Linked DNA regions of Homo sapiens: region 2 is linked to region 1. Evidence: fine-mapped expression QTL. Tissue or cell type: whole blood. Region 1 holds a variant in brackets; the other region holds the start of a gene. All regions are shown on one strand. Distances are between the middles of the regions.

Region 1 (8,346 bases):
CTATCACATAGGGAGAAACCTTGGACAATACTCGGCTTTTCAGGGCAGATGTCCCTGCGGCTTTCTGCGGTGTTTGTGCCCGTGGTTTATTGAGAATGGAGAATGGCGATGACTTTTACCAAGCATACTGCCTGTAAACATTTTGTTAACAAGGCACATCCTGTACAGCCCTAGATCCCTTAAACCTTGATTCCATACAACACATGTTTTTGTGAGTTCAAGGTTGTGGCAAAGTTACAGATTAACAGCATCTCAGGGCAAAGCAATTGTTCAGAGAACAGGTTAAAATGGAGTTTCTTATGTCTTCCTTTTCTACATAGACACAGTAACAGTCTGATCTCTCTTTTCCCTACAGCTTTGATCTATGTGAAATGTCACTCTCAGTTACTCAGGTGAATCTGCTTTACCCATGTGGCAATATGGAGGCACATCCCTGAGATTTCCCTTCAAGAGAACTTGTCAAAAGGAGTGCAGTGAGCTGACAGTCTCCAGCTGCAGCACCTTTGAAATCTGCCACAGCATTTCAGCCAAGGCCACTCTTTTCCTGGCCAGCCCCACTCAATGACTAAGCATGACACTGTACTAAGACATTTTTGCCCAACACATACTTCTCCCGACACAAAAGATCTCCACTGAGGATTTTTGTGCCACAACTTTCCCTTGCGTGGGCTCAGATTTTTTCAGAGTTGCAATTAGAGCCTCTTCCTCCTGAATCTCTGTCCTTCCCCCAGCCCCACTCCCCTTCAAAAGTATCAGATATACATTGTGGTATAAAGCATTTTCTGTCTACTCCTGTTTCCTCTGCCATTTATTGTGTGTGTGTGTGTGTGTGTGTGTGTGTGTGTGTGTGTGTGTGATATAATAAAACTTTTTTCATGGCCACTGTAATTTAAATTTTATGTAATTTTCATGTGCCATAAAATACACTTTTTACAAAATGTTCTTAAGAAACTTCTATATTTTAGGACACATTTAGATTTGCAGAAAATTTTATAGTACAGAGTTCCCATATACCTCATACCAACTTTCCCCTATTGTTAACATCTTACATTGAACATTTTTCATGATTAATGAGCCAATGTTGATACATTATCATTAACCTAAAGTCCACACTTTATTTTTTTTTTTTTAGTTTTTACTTAATACCCTTTTATTTTCCCTTCCAAAATCCCATTCAGGATATCATATTACATTGAGTAGACATACTTCTAATCTTAGTCTCCTTGTGTTTGTGATGGTTTCTCAGACTTCCTTTGTTTTTGATGACTTTGACAGTTTTAAAGAGTACTTGTCAGGTATTTTAGAGAATGTTCCTCATTTGAGATTCATCTGTTGCTTTTCTCACAGTTAGGCTGGGATTATGTATTCTTGGGAAGAAGACCACGGAGGAAAAGTGCTATTCTCGTCATATCAAAAATACATACTATTAACGTGACTATTAACATGACTTGATGTTGACCTGATGGTGACCTGGATCACCTGGCTGAGGTAGTGTTTGTCAGTTTTCTCTCCTGTAAAGTTACTCTTTTTCTTTCTCCTTCCCATATCATACTAGTTAATGCCTTAGCTTTTACACCCATCAATGAATAAATCTCTTGCACTTCTCATGGCTGGTTTTAGTAGTGGAGCGTCTGAACTAGTGGCCCAAGGAAGTAAGTCTTAGTAAGTTTAGTAGTGGTCCAAGGAGGTAAGTCTCTTGGACCACTATCTCTTGCGCTTCTGACGTTATCTTGACATTGCCTTCTGAACTAGCACACCTTCTTTTTAGTATTGGAGAATCTGAACTAGCACAGCTGGTTTTAGCAGTGGTTCAAGGAAGTAAGTCGTAAAAAATCATGATCCCTTGCTTAATTACTGGATTTCAGACAGTTTTCAGACCTGGAACCTACAGACTAAAGAGGTGGCTGAATTCCTTGGAAAAACGCCACTGGTACGTACTTTAAAGATTCCTTAGTAACCCCCTTCTGTATGTACTCTAAAGATTTGTCTAGTCTTTCCCAAAGGGATCCATGGACATTTATGTGGTGAATAAGTACTTGAAAAGGAGAATATACACACAGTTGGGAGACTATTGGACACAGGATCTGGGTTGACATTGATATGCAGAGAGCCAAAGTATCACCATGGGCCCTGTTACATGGAGGTGAATGGGGCAAGGTAAAATATTACTAGCTAAAGTTTATCTTGCAGTGGGTCCATTTGGTTTGCAGATTTACTGCATGGTCATTTCTCTGGCTCTCCAATTTACTATTGGATAGTCTTCGACATTGGGTCCTTGGCTGTGGAGGAAGACACAGCCTCTGACATTACCAAGCTTAAAGACAGAAAATAAAAAACAATATTGTTTCCTGAAGATATGACAGAGATTTGTTCCCCTTTAAAGATCTAAAATCGGAGGAATGGTAGTCCCTATCATATATATTTTGGAGACAGAGTGTATTAGTCTGTTTTCACACTGCTGATAAAGATGTACCCTCCAAATCTCATGTCCTCGCATTTCAAAACCATTCATGCCTTCCCAACAGTCCCCCAAAGTCTTAACTCGTTTAAGCATTAACTCAAAAGTCCACAGTCCAAAGTCTCATCTGAGACAAGGCAAGTCTCTTCCTTCTGTGAGCCTGTAAAATCAAAAGCAAGCTAGTTACTTCCTAGATACAATGGGGGTACAGGTATTGGGTAAATACAGCCATTCCAAATGGGAGGAATTGGGTGTAACAAAGGGGTTACAGGGCCCATGCAAGTCTGAAATCCAGCAGGGCAGTCAAATTTTAAAGCTCCAAAATGATCTCCTTTGACTTTATGTTTCACATCCAGGTTACCCTGATGCAAGAGGTAGGTTCCCATGGTCTTGGGCAGCTGTGCCCCTGTGGCTTTGCGGGGTACAGCCTCTCTCCCAGCTGCTTTCATGGGCTGGCATTAAGTATCTGTGGCTTTTCCAGGTGCATGGTGCAAGCTGTTGGTAGATCTACCATTCTGGGGTCTGGAGGACAGTGGTCCTTTTCTCACAGCTCCACTAGGTGGTTCCTCAGTAGGGACTCTGTGTGGGGTCTCTGATGCCACATTTTCTTCCTCACTGCCCTAGCAGAGGTTCTCAATGAGGGCCCCGCCCTTGCAGCAATCTTTTGCCTGGGCATCCAGTTATTTCCATACATCTTCTGAAATCTAGGCTGAAGTTCCCAAACCTCAATTCTTGACTTCTGTGTACCCACAGGCTCAACACTACATGGAAGCTGCCAAGGCTTGAGGCTTCTACCCTCTGAAGCAACAGCCCCAGCTGTACCTTGGCCCCTTTCAGCCACGGCTGGAGCAGCTGGGACACAGGGTACCAAGTTCCTAGACTGCACACAGCACGGGGACCCTGGGCCCAGCCCACAAAACCACTTTTTCCTACTGGCCTGTGATGGGAGGGGCTTCCACAAAGGTCTCTGACATGGCCTGGAGATATTTTCCCCATTGTTTTGGAGATTAACATTAGAATTCTTGCTACTTATGCAAATTTCTGCAGCCAGCTTCAATTTCTCCCCAGAAGAAATTAGTCAGGCTGCAAATTTTCCAAACTTTTATGCTCTGCCTCCCTTATAAAACTGAATGCCTTTAACAGCACCCAAGTCACCTCTTGCTTTGCTGCTTAGAAATTTCTCCCACCAAATACCCTAAATCATATTTCTCAAGTTCAAACTTCCACAAATCTTTAGAGCAGGGGCAAAATGCCGCCAGTCTCTTTGCTAAAACATAACAAGAGTCACCTTTACTCCAGTTCCCAACAAGTTCCTCATCTCCATCTGAGACCACATCAGCCTGGACCTTATTGTCCATATTGCTATCAGCATTTTGGTCAAAGCCATTCACCAAATCTCTAACTTTCCCACATTTTTCTGTCTTCTTCTGAGCCCTCCAAACTGTTCCAACCTCTGCCTGTTACCCAGTTCCAAAGTAGCTTCCACATTTTTGGGTATCTTTTTAGCAATGCCCCACTCTACTGGTACCAATTTACTGAATTAGTCTTTTTCATGCTG[C/G]TGATAAAAACACACCTGAGACTGGGAAGAAAAAGAGGTTTAATTGGACTTATACCTCCACATGGCTGGGGAGGCCTCAGAATCATGGCGAGAGGCAAATGCACTTCTTACATGGTGGTAGCAAGAGAAAATGAAAAAGAAGCAAAAGGAGAAACTCCTGAAAAACCCATCAGATCTCGTGAGGCTTATTCTCTATCACAAGAATAGCATGGGAAAGACTGGCCTCCATTATTCAATTACCTCCCCCTGGGTCCCTCCCAGAACACATGGGGATTCTGGGAGATACAATTCAAATTGAGATTTGGGCGGGGACACAGCCAAACTATATCACAGAGTCTCACTCTGTTGCTCAGGCTGGAGTGAAGTGGCGCAATCTCAGCTCACTGCAACCTCCACCTCCCAGATTCAAGTGATTCTCGTACCTCAGTCTCCTGAGTACCTGGTATTACAGGCATGCACCACCACACCTGGCTAATTTTTTGTATTTTTAGTAGAGGTGGGGTCTCACCATGTTGCCCAGGTCGGTCCCAAACTCCTGTGCTCAGGCAATCCACTTACCTCAGCCTCCCAAAGTGCTAGGATTATAAGCATGAACCACAATACCTGGCCTATCCTATGTATTTTTAATGGACCAGTCTGGTCCCTGCTGAAAATAGATGGATCTTGGAGGAAACCTGTGGACTACCACAAGGTCAACCAAGTAATAGAACCAGTCATAGCTGCCATGCTGAATGTTGTATTATTGCTTGAGCAGATTAATAAGGCCTCAGATATATAGTATGCAGCATTAGTTTGGCAAATGTGTTTTTTTAATCCTAATCAATCAAGAGAATCAGAAATAGTTTGCACTCACATGGAAAGAATAAAATTTTGCCCTAGAGCTATGTTAACAGTTCTACCCACTGACAGAAAATATTTAGAAGAGATCTGGACTGTCTGGAATCCTGTACAATTTCAAATTGATTTATTATATTAATGGCATCATGCTGATCTGGCAGGATGAGCAAGAAGTGACTAGCATACTAGAGGTCTTGGTAAGGCATATGCACTCCAGAGGAATCTGTCACTTCAATAAGAACTTTAGAAATTCAGGGGTCAGGAAGATGCTGATGCACAAATTGCTGCATTTGTATTCTCTATTACAAAGACAGAAGCATAGAAACTGATAGGATACCAAGTGACCATGTGTCCAGAACCATCCATCATGATTTGTGTTTTGTCAGATTGAATCATAAAGTTAGGCAGTTCCAGTTACAACATATCTATAAGATGTAAATGGTACATTTAAGATTGTATCTAAGTAGAAACAGAGGGCATAAGTAAACTACGTAAGCAGACAAGCTAGAGCTCCATATCACCCACCACAGTTGTACCAGTAATCTTCTTTCAGCTCTCACTTAGCACCATATGAGAGATGGGTTCCTGTCCCACTAGATAAAGGAAATGAAAAAAAGTTCATTCTTGGTTTATCAGTTGGTTGGCTTGACAGGTGGGTACAAGCTGAAAATGGACAATGGCTACATTACAGCCATACTCAGGGGCGGCGGCCTTGAAAGACAGTGGTGAGAGAACATTTTCAAGGTGGAACTTTGGGTGTACCTGGCCATTCACTTTGTATGAAAGCAGAAGTGGCCTGAGGTGAAAATAAGTGTGAACTGTGGCAAATGCCTGGCCAGAGTTCAGGGGTTTAGAAATAAAAGAATTGGAAGATCAGAAATAAGAGGGTCTGGGCCAATGACATATGAGTGGAGATATGGGAGTGGGAATGGTGTGTGAAAAGTTTCTATAGATTAATGCCTATCAGAGCCACTGAATAATCAATAGACAAAATGACTCAACCAGTTGACATTAGTCAGCCTTGGTCCTTTTTCTACCCAGAATAAGTATTACAGGCAAATGGAATGCATGAATGCAACACATAAGTCTGTTTGTATGAACTCCCACTTATTGAGGCTGATCCAAATACCTCTGTATGTATGACCTATCAACAATGTAGATGAGTCCCCACCATGCTACTATTTGAAAAGACCAACTGGCATTTTGTAATAAATTGACTATATTAGTCCCCTTCCATCGTGGAAAAGTCAATAGTTCTTTCTCGTTGAAACAGATACCTGTTCTGACACCCATTCTGGATATGAATTTGACTTTCCAGCCCTCAGAGTCTTAGCCAACACCACAATTTGGGGATTTACTGAGTTCCTGATTCACAGGCATAGAATCCCACAGAAGCAAGCATCCAATCAGAGGTATCACTTTGCAGTAAAGGAGTTTCAGGAGGGGTGTCCTGACTGTGGAACCCACTGGTTGTATTATACATCACACTATGTAGAAATTGCTGGCCGATAAACCATTAGGATAGTCTTTTGAAGGTGCAGCTAAAGTTCCAGCATAGAGGCAGTACAGTTGGCCCTCCATATCTGCAGGTGCTGTGTCTGTGGATACAGCCAACTGCAGATCAAAAATCCCACCCTCACCCACACCAAAGGGAGAGAGTGCCAAAGCACCCTTTGGGACAAAGGAAACCAGACTGTGCACTCTCATCTGCCTGAGAGCTCCCTGCTTGTGAGAAGACGATGATTGTGCCCCTCCCAGCGGAGAAATGGGTGTGGTGTTGGGCTCTGTAGGGGAGGAGGGTGGTTCCACCACAGCAGCCAGGCAGTACCAGTGCCTGGAACGGATGTGGAAATAAGGTCTCCTCCACCCCTCATCTACTGCTGTGGATGTCCCTGCTGGGAATTGACACAGTAGCAGCTGTCCCTGCTGGGAATTGGCACAACAGCACCTGGGGAGAACATTTCTAGGGCTATTGAGGGTTAATTCACCCCCACAGATGGTGTGCCTACTGGCCTAAGCTTGCACAAAGGGTGGGGCCCATCCCAATGTGGAGCATTCGCATTCCTATGGCAGAGTGCAAGTGAGTTGCAGAGCTGTCTGTTAAGGTTTGAGGGAAGAGGTTCTGCCCCAAGGCCATTTCAGGAGTAGCCATGGAATGGGAATGTTTCTTGACCTCAGCTGAATTGTGGGCTGAGGATAAGGACAATATCTATTTGAACCAAATAACAAAAGCCCCTGGACAGGTGTGTGATAGGGAAGCAGACTGTCTTCTTGTTTAGTGCAGCCTCCTTTATCCCCCCATAGTGGAGACCTCAGGACCCTGAGCCCCTCTCTGCCCCCCTGCCCCATCAGGGTGGGTGCTTCCACTAGTAACTGGGGTATTCAAAGACGAGTTTGGAAGTCCAGCTCTGCCCAAATTTGTCCCTTGCTCTGGGCTGAGTGAGGAACTCAGGGCATTGAGTAGTCCACAGACCAGCCAACTGCCTGTGACAACAGAAATCCCCTCCCAGTGAACAAAGAAAAAGAACATAGGCATCAACCTCTGTGGTAGCCAGCTTTTACCCATAAGCACCACCTACTGGACTGGAAATTGAAGTGCCCAACCAAATATAAAACCTGCTGACTGAAGAGCACAGTGCTAGGGAATGAGATAAGCTTCCTGAGGCCTCTGCACTCTCAGCCCGGCAGAAGGTAGTGAGCCTGCTTATATACCCAATACATTGCTACTACAATCAGCATTTAAGAAAGCCACCACACAAAAGCTATCTATAACTAAGGAACTCATACAGAACCTTGGCTCACTGAAAGCACCCAGAATCAAAGCCAAATGATTATACACAATATACATTACTACAGTCACACCCTCGAGGGAAAAAAAGTGTCATTCAAAAGAAAGTAAATTCAAAAATAAAAAATGATAGCTTCCTCAGATGAGAAGGAATCAGCGTAAGAATTCCAACAGTATAAAAAACCAGTGTTTCAACACTCCCAAAGGATCATACTAGCTCTCTAGCAATGGATCTTAATCAAAATGAAAATTCTAAAATGACAGATAAAGAATTTAAAATATGTATTGTAAGGAAGCTCAATGAGGTCCAAGATAAAGTTGAAAACCAACACGAAATCAGAAAAAAACTCAGAATATGAATAAACAATTACTAAAGAAATACATATTAAAAAGCAAACTGAACTTCTGGAAATAAAAAAAATTATTGAAGGAGTTACAAAATACAACTGAAAGCTTTAACAATAGACTGGAACAAGCATAAGAAAGACTTTTAGAGCTCGAAGACCAATCCTTTGATTTAACCTAGGCAGACAAAAATTTAAAAAATAAAATAAAATAAATAAACAAAGCCTTCAAGAAATATGGGATTATGTAAAGTGACCAAACCTATGAGTTATAGGCAATCTTAAGCAAGAAGAAGAAGAAGTAAAAAGCTTGGAAAACCTATCCAAGGGAACAATTTGGGAAACCGTCCCTAGTCTTGCT
Region 2 (8,346 bases), 50 kb after region 1:
AAAATAATCTTGAAGAAGATGAAAAAAGTTGAAGAATGCACACTTCCTAATTTCTACTTACCAGTATTCTACAGTAATCATTGTGGAACTATTAATAGCATACAGACATATTAGACTAACAGAATGGAATAGAGGGCCCCAAAATAAATGCCAGCATATATGGTCAAACGATTTTTAACAAGGGTGGAAAGACCATTTTATGGGGAAAATAACAATCTTTCCAGCAAATGAAGTTAGGAAAACTGGATATCCACATGCAAAAGAATAAGCTGGACCCTTACCTTACACAATATACAAAACTTAACTCAAAGACCTAAAACTATAAAACCTTTAAAAAGCACAGGGGAAAAGCTTCATGATATTGAATTTGGCAATGACTTCTTGGATACGACAAAAAATACATACAATAACAACAAAAAATGATAAATTATACTTCATTGACGTTAAAAACTTTTGTTTATCAAAGGATATTATCAATAGAGTGCAAAGGCAACTTACAAAACGGGAGAAAATACTTTCAAATCATATATCTGAAAAAGATTAATATCCAGAATCTATAAAAATTCCTATAATTCAACAACAAAAAATCTAACAAGTTGGCCAAAAAATGTGCAAACGACTTGAATAGATAGTTCTTCAAAGAAGAGAAAATCTTGGTCAAGAAGCAAATAAAAAGATGCTCAATATCAGTAATCATTAGGGAAATGCAGATAAAAAATACAGTGAGGTATCACTTCATAACTGCTAGATGGTTATCATTAAGAAAAAAAGAGGAATAAGGAAAATAAAACAGAAAATAACAAGTGTTATCAAGGATGTGGAGAAATTGAACCCTTGAACATTCTTGGTGGGAATGTAAAATGGTGCAGCCACTATGGAAAACAGAATGGGGGTTCTTTGAAAAATTAAACAGAATTATCATATGATACAGCAATTCCAGTTCTGGGTATATACCCAAAAACAGCAAAATCAGGAACTGGAGCAGATAAATGTACACCCATGTCTATAGCAGTATTATTCACAACAGCCAAATAATGGAAGCAATCTAAATATCCACTGACCAATGAATGGATAAACAAAATGTGGTATATGCATACAGTAGAATATTATTCAGCTGTAAAAAGACAGGTAATTCTGACACATGCTACAACATGGGTGAACTTTATAGACATTATACCAAATGAAATAAGCTAGTAACAAAGACAAATATTATATGATTCCACTTATATTTGGTACCTTAAGAAGTCAAATTAATAGGAATAGAAAGTAGAATGGTGATAGAGGCCTGGGAGGAGGGGAGATGGAGAGTAAAGTAATTATTTGATGGGTATGGAGTCTCAGTTCAGGAAGACGAAAAAATTTTGGAGATAGGTGGTGGTAATGGGTGCACAACAATGCAAATGTACTTAATGCCACTGAACTATACACTTAAAAATGGTTAAAATGGTAAATGTTATGTCCTGTATATTGTAATACAATTTTTTAAAAACAACAATTTTTTTGGTATTTAAAAGCAAGGTAGAACAAAAGTACTACACGGCAATAGCATGAATAAGGATGGAAAGTATTCAGAATTTGTGTTCTAAGATCTTATTAATATTTGGGTGGAGTTTACAGGTATTAACTTTTGGAATTTATAAAAAGTACATACATTAAAATACTAAAAATAACCAATAAAAGAGTTTAAATAAGCTGAGTGATGTCCAAATCTGCTAAAGAAACATTTTAAATAGGCCATACTATTATGATAGACTATACTATTTACAGTTAATATTTATGTCCTAATAAAATACATGGGAAAAATATACATTAACTTCAAGAAAGAAGAAAAAGGTAAAAATTTAGGGTGGGACTTTAACCTATATATCAAATACTATTCCTTTAAAAATGTCTATATTTAAAAATATCGATTGTGGGTATACAGGTATATTATTTTATATACCTTATGTTTGAAATACTATATAATTTTTAGAGATGAGATAGAAAACCTATGAAAAGTTGTATTAGAAAGTATTATGTGTTTATTAATTTTCAGGAGTAAGGATAATCTTCAAATTGGGAAGAAACAGAATTAGTCACAAAAAATGGGAAATTAGTTGAAACTCCCAAATATCCCCAAACTCTATAATTGAATTCAAAAGAAAAAGAATTGGCTTAGAAAAAAGTATCTTCAGCAGATAGAACCAAATGCTAGCATAGTTCTATAAGACAGCATATAATCTGACATGGAAATGCTGACAATATAAAAGGTAAAGGAAATGACGAAGAAAGAACTCAAGTATGTCCTATCAAAATAGTATTTTAAAATCAACATTAAAACAAATGACCATTTTTGTAATTTATTCATTTAGCAAGTAATTGAACATGTCCAAATCAGTGAGGATGTGGTGAAAACAGAACAGCTGGTATTTGCTAAATTTGGCACTACCCTTTAGCATAGCAATTGCTATGTGTTAAATTAATAAAAAATATCATACCCTTAATTTATTTATCCCATTTCTGAAATTTGTGCTAAGAACTAATGCTGAAGGAAGAAAAGACATGTCTAGGAAAGTAGTCCTTGCAATATAATTTATAAGTTTGAAGCTTCTAATTCCCTAAGAGGACAGTTATTTATTTGCCGGATTTTCAGTCATTTTAATGACAGTCAGGAAAACTCAATAGCAACCAGGGAATAGTTGAGTTGTTAAATGACTATAGGGTGTAAAAGAGGGGGAAAGCAAGAACCGCATTGTAAGGTAAGGCAAAATCAGGGTCAAGACTAGGGTGAGGAAACTGAGACACTTCCTTAGGAGCCAAATTTGGAATGGGCACAAAAAAAAAAAATCAAGATAACAAACATTTTTAAAAGGCAAAGCTAATGTGACATCGATGATGGAAAAAGCTAAAAATAAAAATTTCAAATACAAACAGAATCTCATCTTGATTTGCACCACCCTGAGAGTGTCGCACTTGTTTTTCCCTAATCCAGACCCAAGGAACCTGTCTTTGTTAAATTTTTTAACATTTTCTTTACCCTTGATATTGATATTTTTGCACTGATTTTTAATTTTTAAAAACCCGTTGCATTAAAATATCATTTTCTTGAATTGGCGCCCCCTTAAAATCTGCACTTCAGGCCAGTGCCTCCATCACCTTAGTCCTGGCCCTGTGTAATATCATGGTAATAAGCATGTGTTAGAGTGTCCGCAGTTTTTCTCTGTGTAAACTTCACGTGTACTTTAAAAACCAAGCTAAAAGTGCGGTTCTCCGCGATCCTTCAGCCTCAGAGCAGTGGCCCCAACTACCCGAGATCCAGGGAGGCGTTGTGGCAACGGTAGTGGAAGGGTCGGCAAACCGCCTTCCGGCCTCACCATGAAGCGCAAGTTAGACCCTCGGGGAATGACGTCGCCCCGCAGCTCATTGTGGAGGTTCACGTACTCGTTGATAAAGTCTACGTCCTCCTCGTCTGGCAAAAATCTGGCGTTCAAACTAGAACCCAGTAGCAGTAGCCACAGCTCACAGAGCCGCAGCTTCAAAACGCCCCCTACTGCCAGGGGTAGGGACTGGGCCCTCCACTCCCGGGCGAAGGGCCTTGCGGCCTCCATGGTCCACCGGCCGCTGACAGGCCAGTGCGCACGCGCTGGCCGTCCCAGTGACCTGCCAATCTACGGAGGACGCAAGCAAGCCTTGTCCCGCCTCCCGGAAGGAGAAAGGGAGGAGGGAGGAGGGAAAAACAAAGGAGGGAGGAGGGGGTAAGGAGGAGGGAGGAGAGAAGAGGGAGGGGAGAGTGGGTAGGGGAGGGGGAGAGGAGGGGAAAGCTAGACCTGCAGAGTGAAGAAAGCTGGTAATAGATGTCTGACAAACTAAAGAAAGACTTGTGTTACGTGAGTAAGCCCTTTTCACTAAACTAATGTAGTGAAATGTTATCCCGAATTGATTTCTGACACTGAATGATATGTCGTTATTAATGAGTCATCAGTTTGTATGGTAAATGCCAATTGCTGAGTAACAGGTCTGAGGAACCTTCTAATTGTGCCAGGTGAAATGATTTTTCTGCGATACAGATACAAATTCAATTAAATTTTTTTTCCCCATTACCTGTTGAGTTGGAAATTTGGTGCAGGGCCTGCCTTTTATTTTCCTCAGGGACAGAATGGAATACAGAAATATTGCTAGTTCTTAAGGCCAAAGAAGTTCTTAAGGCCAACTTAATTGATGAGATTTTTTTCAGTTTTTAAATGAACCTTTGTGGGAAACCACAAAATAAATGGGAGTGAAGGGAGAGTAGGGATCACCAAACTCTTCAAAGGTTAAAACATTTCTACTTCTTCTCTCATCAGCACAATTCAGACAGCCCGGAATATCAAGATTCATCTTTTTCACTAATTGTGGCATTCACAGTAAGAACGAACTCTTTTGTTTTCTTTTTTTGTTCCAGACAAAATTGGCTAATATCTAGCTGATTTTGGTCTGATCTGTTTACCTCCAAACATTTTCCTCAAAAACAAAACAAAACAAAACCAACTTGCTTTGAAGACTTTAAATTCTAAGCATGGAAAAAAAGCAAGTATTAGTTTTGGAATACACGTTTGCATATTACATATTGTGCTTAATAGCATTAAGCAGATATGGAAAATTGACATTGGGAGAGAATTTTACTACAAAACATTGTAACAGGTTAGCCAAACATTTATAAAAAGAAAAGTGCTTTTAAAAATTGTCTGTGATGCACACAATTGAAAAACAATAGACCTATGTAAGATGGTTTCATTTATGCCCTTGAATACTTACTACTATGACTGCATAGTAGTAAGTTTTAAGTGATTGAGAAAGATCAGTAGACAAGACACAGATCCAGCTTTCAAGCAGCTTACAATTTAGTGAATTAGCAATCAGGCAGTATTTAAAACGTGATAAATACAAAGCCAAAATTCTATTGCTTGGTACTCTTGTGGAGGAGCAGGGAAGCCTTTCTGGAAATTGTATACAGAAAGTGAAACAGACAAGTCTAAGATAGCATTCTAAACAAAGGGAAAAGCATGTAATGTGCCTAAGGAGAGGAAGATCCTAAACGCTAGAAGTATTTTAGTATGGCTAGAACCTATTTAAGGGTGAAGGTGGCAAGTGCTGAAAGATGCAATTCTTTTATTATGGTGGTACTGTTGTTAGACTGCAAAAAATGCTAAAGAAAAAGTATAAATAGAATAATGCAATCTTAGATTTGGAAGAAATTTTAGCCACTATTGCTAGCCTCCTGTGTTAGGTATACTCTCCGGAACATCACTGACAGGTGATCATCACATCCTTTTCTTAAATAATTAGACCAACAGGGAAGCCCATTCCACTGCTAGACATCTCATTCAATAAATATTTCCTTGGTACTTCCTGTGTGTCACAGCCCAGCTAAAGGCTCAAATGCTGAACAAGCTAGACATGGAGTCTATCCACAGGGAGCTTTTAATTAAAGGTGACACAGATGAATCATCAAACAGTTACAATACAGAGTGGTGAATACTATTTTTAATCTATTTCACAAATATTTAATGTGTCAGGCACTATTTAAAATGCTTGGACAATATCAACTCACTCAAGTCACACAAATCTTAAGAAATAGTTATTATCCCTTTAACAGATGGAAAAACAACTGAGAAAAAGAGAAATCAAATTGCCTGAGGCCACCCAGCCAGGGAGTGGTAGAGCTACTTCTGTGTTTTTTTTGTTTTGTTTTGTTTTTTTTACCAATTCCTTTTCTAAAAATAGACTCTTTTTTAATAGCAGTTTTAGGTTCACAACAAAACTGAGAGGAAGGTACAGAGATTTCTCATGTAACTCCTGTCCCCACACATACATAAACTCCCTCATTATCAACATCCCACAACAGAGTAGTACATTTACAACTGATGAACCTACATTTATCCATTATTCCCACCCAGAGTTCATAGTGTATATTAGGGCTCATTCTTGGTGTTGCACATTTCATGGGTTGGTATAAATGTATAATGACATGTTTCCAGCATTTAGTACCATATAGAGTCGTTTTGCTGCCTAAAAATCCCTGGTGCTCAGACTATTCATCTCTCCCTGCCTCCTAACCCCGGCAACTACTAATTTTTTTTTACTGTCTTCATAGTTTTGCTTTTTCCAGAATGTCATATAGTTGGAGTCATACAGTATGTAGTCTTTTCAGATTGGCTTCTTTCACTTAGTAATATGTGTGTAAATTTCTTCCATGTCTTTTCGTGGCTTGATACCTAATTTCTTTTTAGCACTGAATAATTTTTCATTTTCTGGATGTACCAACATTTCTTTATTCCAGTAGCTACTGAAGGACATGTTGGCTGATTCTAGGTATTGGTGTATTATTCTATTCTCATGCCACTAATAAAGACAGACCCAAGACTGGGTAATTTATAAAGGAAAGAGGTTTGATGAACTCACAGTTCCACATGGCTGGGAGCCCTCGCAATCATAGTGGAAGACGAAGGAGGAGCAAAGGGACATCTTACATGGTGGCAGCCAAGAGACCATGTGCAGGGGAACTACTCTTTATAAAACCATCAGATCTCATGAGACATAATCATTACCATGAGAACAGCACGGGAAAAACCTGCCCCCATGATTCAGTTACCTCTCACCTAGTCTCTCCCATGACACGTGGGGATTATTACAATTCAGGGTAAGATTTGGGTGGGGACACAGAGCCAAACCATATCAATTTGCAAATGTGAATACAGTTGTTATAAACATCTTTGTGCAGGTTTCTGTGTAGACATAAGTTTTCAACTCCTTTGGATAAATACCATGAGCATGATTGCTGGATCATAACTATATGTTATAGTAAATGCTATTGTTTGGATATTTGTCCCTTTCAAAATTCATGTTGAAACTTAATCCCCAATGTAACAGTATTGAAAGGTGGAGCCTTTAAGAAGTGATTGGGTCTGTCCTCATGAATGTATTGATCCATTCGTAGATTAATGGGTTAATGGATTAGTTTAGCCCCTTTACCATGTGATACTCTGTGCTGCCTTGGGATTCTGCAGAGTCCCCAGTAGCAAGAAGGGCCACACCAGATATGGCCCCTTGACTTTGAAATTCTCAGCCTCCATAATTCTAAGAAGTCAATTCCTTTTCTTTATAACTTACTCAGTTTCAGGTATTTTCTTATGAGCAACATTAAACAGACTATGGCAGTAAGCATAATGTTCAGTTTTTTAAGAAACTGCTAAACTATGTTCCAAAGTGGCTGTGCCATTTTGCATTCCCACCAGCAGTGAATGAGAGCTCATGTTCCTCCACATCCTTGTCAGCATTTGGTGTTGCCAGTGTTCTGGATTTTGGCCATTCTAAAAGGTGTGTAGTGGTATTTCATTGGTATTTTAATGTGCGTTTTCCTGGTGACATATGATGCACCTTTTCATATGCTTATTTGAGTACTGTATGTCTTCTTTGGTGAGGTGTCCATTAAGGTTTTTGACCCATTTTTAAATTAAACTGTTTGTTTTTCGATTGTTGAGTTTAAAGAGTCTTTGCATATTGTGCGTAATAGTTTTTATTGCATATATCTTCTGTAAGTATTTTTCTCCCAGGCCATGGCTTGTTTTTTCATTCTCTTGAGAATGTCTTTTGCTGAGTAGAAATTTTTAGTTTTAATGGCACCCAGCTTATCGATTTGTTCTTTCATAAATCATACCTTTTGTGTTGTATCTAAAAGGTTATTGCCAAATTAAAGATCATCTAGATTTTCTCTTATATAACCTTCTGGGAGTTTATACTTTTGTATTTACATTTAGGTCTGTGATCCATTTTGATTAATTTTTGTGAAGGGTATAAAGTTTGTGCTTAGACTGGTTTTTTTTTCTTGTATATGGACGTTCAGTTGTTCCAGAACCATTTGTTGAAAAGACTACATTTCTCCATTATATTGCCTTTGCTCCTTTGTCAAAGATCAGTTGACTTTATTTATGCTGTTCTATTTCTCAGCTCTCTATTCTGTTCCATGGATTTATTTCTACTTTCACCAATACTATACCTTTTAAATTATTGTATTTTTGCTATTGTTTGAATATGTCCCCCTAAATTCATATGCTGGAAAATTAATCCCCAATACAACAGCATTGAGGGGTGGGATCTTTAAGAGGTGATTGGGTCATGAGAGCCCTGTCCTCATGAATTGTATTAATGCCATTATCACAGGATTGGTAAAATATTGAGGGAGTGAGTTCCTGATAAAAGAGTGAGTTCAGCTCCCTTCTTTTGCACATGTGCATGCACTCTCTTCCTCTGTGAACTCCTGCCATCAGATGACACAGCCAGCAGGCCCTCACCAGATGCAAGCTCCTCAACCTTGGACTTTCTAGCCTC

What was found.
Region 2: GLIPR1L2 starts here. The variant in region 1 is fine-mapped to the expression of GLIPR1L2 in whole blood (INTERVAL, PIP above 0.99).

The regions. Positions count from the first base shown.
Region 1 is chr12:75,436,840-75,445,185 of GRCh38, reverse strand. No RefSeq gene overlaps it. Among named protein-coding and RNA genes, the nearest start is that of GLIPR1, 40 kb to the left of the region's middle. The variant C/G (reference allele first, on the strand shown) is at 4,017.
Region 2 is chr12:75,386,358-75,394,703 of GRCh38, reverse strand. It overlaps GLIPR1L2 (GLIPR1 like 2), which reads right to left and starts at 3,615. Exons shown (of 6, transcript NM_001270396.2): 1 at 3,354-3,615. The coding sequence starts at 3,587. It also overlaps a transcript of CAPS2 not described here. RefSeq lists an enhancer at 3,554-3,683 and a silencer at 3,641-3,813.